Regions from separate parts of the Homo sapiens genome. Here region 2 is linked to region 1. The links come from fine-mapping of genetic effects on gene expression. A gene starts in region 1. The other region holds a variant in brackets. All regions are shown on one strand. Distances are from middle to middle.

What was found. PIP is the estimated chance that this variant, and not a neighbour inherited with it, causes the effect. A credible set is the group of variants that fine-mapping cannot tell apart.
Region 2: its variant is the best candidate, but not a certain one, in a credible set for the expression of WDR81 in monocytes (BLUEPRINT, PIP 0.80).

The regions. Positions count from the first base shown.
Region 1 is chr17:1,723,353-1,726,247 of GRCh38, reverse strand. It overlaps WDR81 (WD repeat domain 81), which reads right to left and starts at 1,544. Exons shown (of 10, transcript NM_001163809.2): 1 at 1-1,544. The coding sequence starts at 1,288. RefSeq lists an enhancer at 1,481-1,981.
Region 2 is chr17:1,752,963-1,755,813 of GRCh38, reverse strand. It overlaps SERPINF2 (serpin family F member 2), which reads right to left. Exons shown (of 10, transcript NM_000934.4): 10 at 549-1,692. The coding sequence ends at 1,280. Among named protein-coding and RNA genes, the nearest start is that of SERPINF1, 7.7 kb to the left of the region's middle. The variant C/T (reference allele first, on the strand shown) is at 1,455.

The DNA.
Region 1 (2,895 bases):
CCGCCCCGCCTGCTACGAATGCCTGCCGTGTCATCTCATACGTGAAGTCCAGTTGCTTATCCCCCTTGTTGAGGCGGAACTTGGACTTGCGCAGGTCTCGGAAGCGCCCATGGGGCGTAGTGAAGTCCACCACCCAGGGCAGCACGGGGTGGTAGTTGGGGTCCCCCTGCCGCCGACCTGCCAACCGATTCAGCTGCATGAGGTAGTGGAAGTTGCTGATGCGGCCGTGGACCCAATCTAGCACGAGGCTCCGAAGTTCCTCCTGGCCAGTGGGTTGCCCAGGTTGCCCTCCCTGCTCCTCTTGAGACACAATGCCCGCCTCATCCCTTGCCACAGGGGCCTCCTCATTCTCGTCCTCCTCGGGCCTCTCATAAGCACTCAGGTCCAGTCGCAGCTCGCTGCAAAGCTTCTCATCCACTGCGATGTGATACAAAGACAGGGCCCCACACGCCAGCCCCTGGCGGTGACAGGCGTCCATAGCCCTCAGCACGCGGAAGAGAATGAACAGCACCTTGGCCTGGCTGTTGGTCAGCTTGGCAGGGCTGAAGGTGACCACGTCATGTAGGGAGAACTGTACGTAAGGGTGTACCACATACAGCATCTCCGGCGACTCCAGCAAGGCCTCAGCCCGTAAAAGACTAGGGCAAGCAGGGCTGCCCCGAGGGGGGCAGGGGCCTTCTCTGGCATATGAAGGGCATTGGGTAGTTTCACCCACTGGCAGGAAGGAGCAACCATAGACCCTCTGCAGAGCCTGCCGTACTGAGTCCAAGGCAGGGACAGCTGAGGGGGCAGGGCTGTGACTGTACGGCTGGCCGTAAGTGTGGTATGCATGGCGCCACAGGTTGCGATAATTCTGGGCGGCAACCTCCTGCATGAAGCGAGTGAGGGTCTCAGGGCCGCAGGACCCGTCCTCAAAGGGCAGGCCCCCGCCCAGAGGGTAGGACAGTCTCCGCTTCCGCAGCCCATGCACCTCCACGCGCGTCCAGCCGGCAGGCAGCCTTTGCACAGAGCGCTGCAGGAGAGTCCTGACTTCCGCTTCTCCCAGGCCCTCTGCGCGGGGACAGGGTCCCAGGGGCAGCCGGCGATCGCGGAGGCTGGCCAGCCAGCGCGCAGGCACTAGGGCCACCACGTGGGTGCCCCCCGGGGCCGGAGCCAGCTGCCTGGGATCGATGCTCAGGTCCCTCTCCACGCTCCGGAGCAGCTCCTGCATGTCTGGGCTTGGCGGGGAATGCCAGCCCCCGGCCGGGGTTCTGAGAGCGCCTTCCCGCCCCCCGCTGCCCTGGGCCATCTCCTCCAGGCCGCCCGGGGGCAGCGCGGGGCTGAGCCCAGCCACGGCCCTGCTGGCGACGGCTTCCGGGGTGCCAGGCCGGCGGGGCTGGGATGGGCGCGGGACAGGGGCTGGGGCGGAGGCGGCCGCAGGAAGCCGGCGGCGGCGAAGAGGCGGACGGGGGGCGCGCTTACCCCTCCGCGGGTCCTGCGCTCCGGGCGCGGCGGGGCAGAGGCTGCCGGGCGCGAGCACCGGGCTCCACCGTGACGGGTCAGCTGACGCGGGTCACGTGATCGCCCCAGCACGGAAACAAGCGCACGTGGCTCCAGAGGCCCGGGCGGGACCCCGCTTCCTGCCCGGCGGCCTCCCCGCCCTCCCTCCCGCTGCTCCGCTCTGGCTCGGTCTGGGCTCCGCTTCCTCCCGGGGCTGAAAGGGTCTCCAGCCAGCTCCAGCCGGGCCCGGCGGAGGGCGATGCCTACCGCCCCACCCCTCCCTACTCCCTCCAGCACGCACCAGCGCGCGGGTCCCGGAGGCTGTTCCCAGAGATGCCAGCCTCTTAGTTAAGTGCGGACCGCACAACCAGGGGCAGAACTGGGACTTCTGTTGTGTCTATTTTTGAGACGGAGTCTTGCTCTGTCGCCCAGGCTGGAGTGCAGTGGCGCGATCTCGGCTCACCGCAACCTCTGCCTCCCGGGTTCAAGCGATTCTCTTGCCTCGGCCTCCCGAGTAGCTGGGACGTCAGGAGCGCGCCACCACGCCCGGCTAATTTTTGTATTTTTTAGTAGAGATGGGGTTTCGCCTTGTTGGCCAGGCTGATCTCGAACTCCTGGCCTCGTGATCCACCCGTCTCGGCCTCCCAAGGTGCTGGGATGACAGGCGTGAGCCACCGCGCCCGGCCAGAACTGGGACTTTTGACATGGAATCCCCCCGGCGCCTCCATGCCACCTTCCATAGGAAGGAGCTTTTTAACTTTCCTAAGTACTTCAACAGTCACATTCCATTTGGCCCTCGCAACACACTCTGTGAGGTAGGGAGGACAGTTATTACTGTTTATATTTTACAAGTGATAACCAACAACCGCCAGAGAGGCTTGTCCGCCTGGCGGAATGGAGACTTAGAAACTGGTGCCAGCCTTCTTTCTGCCCAGGAGCACTGCCTCCTGACAGCCCTCTCACGGCTTTTTAAAAAACAAAACTGGCCGGGTGCAGTGGCTCACGCCTGTAATCCCAGCACTTTGGGAGGCTGAGGCAGCTGGATCACGAGGTCAGGAGATCGAGACCATCCTGGCTAACACGGTGAAACCCCGTCTCTACTAAAAACACAAAAAATTACCTGGCCGTGGTGGGGGGCGCCTGTAGTCCCAGCTACTTGGGAAGCTGAGGCAGGAGAATGGCATGAACCCAGGAGGCAGAGCTTGCAGTGAGCCGAGATGGCGCCACTGTACTCCAACCTGGGCAACAGAGCGAGACTCCGTCAAAAAGAATAAATAAATAAATAAATAAATAAATAAATAAATAAATAAAAATAAATAAATAAAAATAAAACCAAATAAATAAATAAAAATAAATAAATAAAATAAAATAAAAATAAAACGAAACCCTGGGCTGTCTGAGGGAGAGAAGTGGCCC
Region 2 (2,851 bases), 30 kb before region 1:
CACCCACATGGTCACCCACGCTGCCCCAGCTCCTGGGCTCTGGCACAGAGGAAGGTGTCAGCCCTGTGCCAAGGTTTCCCCACCTGCTTCCCCCAAATCCTCAGGCACTGACTGTCTCCAGCTGGAGCTGGGTACTCCCGGCAGCCTGCCCCCGGCTGGCGGGCACCAGCTCCTGGCAGAGGGGCTGGTGTGTAATTAGAAGCTCCACAAACTCCCTAATTGCCAGTTCTTCTCCCAAACCAGGAGGCTGGCGCTGTTCTGAGCCGCCCTGTTGCCGGCTGCCTGAGGCATAGAGAGAAGAAGAAGCCAGGAGCAGAGCCAGGCTGGCGTGGAGGTGTCCCGGGGGAGGGCTGGCGAGGTCAGAGGGGACCACGGGGTGGAGGATGCCTGGCGAGCGGCCAGAGGCCAAACGTGGCACTGCGCGGGCTGCCACCCCTGCTGGGCCCAGGGTTCCTCAGCACAGTCCACCCTGCGGCCGCCTCCCTGCCTTCCCCACCATCCTCACTTGTCCCCACCCATGCCCAGAACGGTGACATCAAACCAGCCAGGCCCATTCATTCTTTATTCAGGTGGCATAAAAATCACTACAAAAACCTTACAAAAGAGCCTTAAGGAGCTCATGGGATCCTTCCCTGCCTCGGTTCCTGAGCTCCCGGGCAGAGGAGGGAGACAGGAGAGGAAGGAAGGGAAATGCTGGCAGTGTTGGGATCTCGAGGAGCCGTGGGAAGTCTGGCGTGACAAGGCACAGGGGGTAGGATGGAGGCTGATGGACTCTCGGCAGGTTAGGCCACAGCCAGGCTGTGCCAGACACGAGTTCCACGCGGGGCTGAGGACAACGCTTCGCCTCCCGAGCCACCACCAGGGCCCGTCTCTCCCCACCCTAGCCTAGGTGTCCCGGGACAAGTCCAAAGGCAGCCCTCTCCCCCTCCCTTTTTCTCTGGTAAACAAAAGTCGGGGTGTCCCAGCTGACGTGGGGAGCAGCTAACCTGTCTCCTGGCAGAACTAGAAGCACCTCCCTCCTGCCCAGGCCCCGGTGCAGGACACCCTCTGAGCCTGTTTGGAAGAAAGATGAGGGTCAGGCTCCCGGCTCCCCGATGCCTGCCCTCCTCCCAGCCGCGCCCCCCCCCCACCCTAAACTCCCCAAGAGGTGTTGGGAAAGAATGGCCTCTCTCAGACTGCCCCCGGCCCCTGCCCCAGTGCCACAAAGCCGGTTGGAAAGAGTCACATGAGTGGAGAGGCTGGTCCAGGCAGGGACTCTGGATGCCACAGCCACGGCCCCTCACTTGGGGCTGCCAAACTGGGGGTAATCCTCCTCCATGGGGGGCACAAGTTTTAAGTCAGGGCCGAAAAGCTTGTCTCCGCGGGGGAAGCCTTTCAGGCTCTGGAGGAAGTCCTTGTTGCCCGGGGAATCCTGCTGTTCCTTGAGCTCCCGCGGTGCACTGGGGTTGGGGTTC[C/T]TCACGCTGCCCACGAAGAGGGGAAGGCCTGTGGTGTCCTCGAAGATGAAGAAGAGGAAGGGGCGGTTCACGCTGAAGGAGGACAGGGACATGCGGGACATGGCAATGCTGGTGGCCGCCGCCGCCTCCACGCCGACCTCGCTGAGCTCCAGGGTGGACTGATGCTGCACGCCGGACACCACCAGGCTCTGCTCGGAGATCCCACGCAGGTCTGGGGCCTGGAACAACTCCTGCAGGCCTGCCCAGGGCCAGAGATGGCTGGTCAGAGCTGCCCTTGGCCTCACAGGCTCCTGGAGCTGCTTGGGAGGGTGTCTGAGATCCTGGCCAGGGAACAGCTTGAACTCACAGATACCTGCTTCATTCCTATCCGGTTTCCAAGACTCAGCTTAAACACCACCTCCTCCAGGAAGCCTTCCCTGATCCCCAGCTCTAAAGTCCAACCAAGGTACATTTTCAGTGTTCTCCCAGGTGAGCTGGAGAGAAGCCCTCTCTGTCTTATCGCTTATGCTGTAGTAAGTATGTGATTGCTCGTCTGCCCACCCCATTAGACTCAGCTGTTTGTACATGGTGGGCTCCCGGTACCTGGTACAGTGCCTGGAATACAGCAGCTGCTTAGCAAATGGCTGAAGGATAGATGCTTTATTTATTTATTTTAGTTATTATAATTTTTTTTTGAGATGGAGTCTCACTCTGTCATCCAGGCTGGAGTACAGTGGCGTGATCTCGGCTCACTGCAACCTCCTCCTCCCAGGTTCAAGCAATTCTCCTGCCTCAGCCTCCCAAGTAGCTGGGATTATGGGCATGCGCCACCACGCCCGGCTAATTTTTGTATTTTTAGTGGAGACGGGTTTGGCCATGTTGGCCAGGCTGGTCTCAAACTCATGACCTCAGGTGATCCACCCTCTTTGGCCTCCCAAAGTGCTAGGATTACAGACGTGAGCCACCATGCCCGGCCTTTATTTTTATTTTTGAGACAAGGTCTTAGTTCTTTTGCTGAGGCTGGAGTGCAGTGGCACAATTATGGCTCACTGCAGCCTCAGCCACCTGGGGTCAAGAGGGCCTCCCACCTCAACCTCCCCAGTAGCATGCACCACACCTGGCTAATTTTTGTATTTTTTGTAGGGACGGAGTTTCAATGTGTTGCACAGGCTGGTGTCGGACTCCCGGGCTCAAGCAATCCACCCACTTCAGCTTCCCAACGTGCTGGGATTACAGGCATGAGCCACTCCACCCAGCATTTCTTTAACAGTGTGACACCCCAGCTTCTCCTCCTTCCCCTTCCAGGGAAGCCAGCGAGGCTCACATGCCATCCCAGGCTCTCTACCCAGACTCTCCTTGCAATGCGAGGTCTTGGGCAGCAAAGCAGAGCCCCATTCCCCGGGCCACCCCAACTTCCT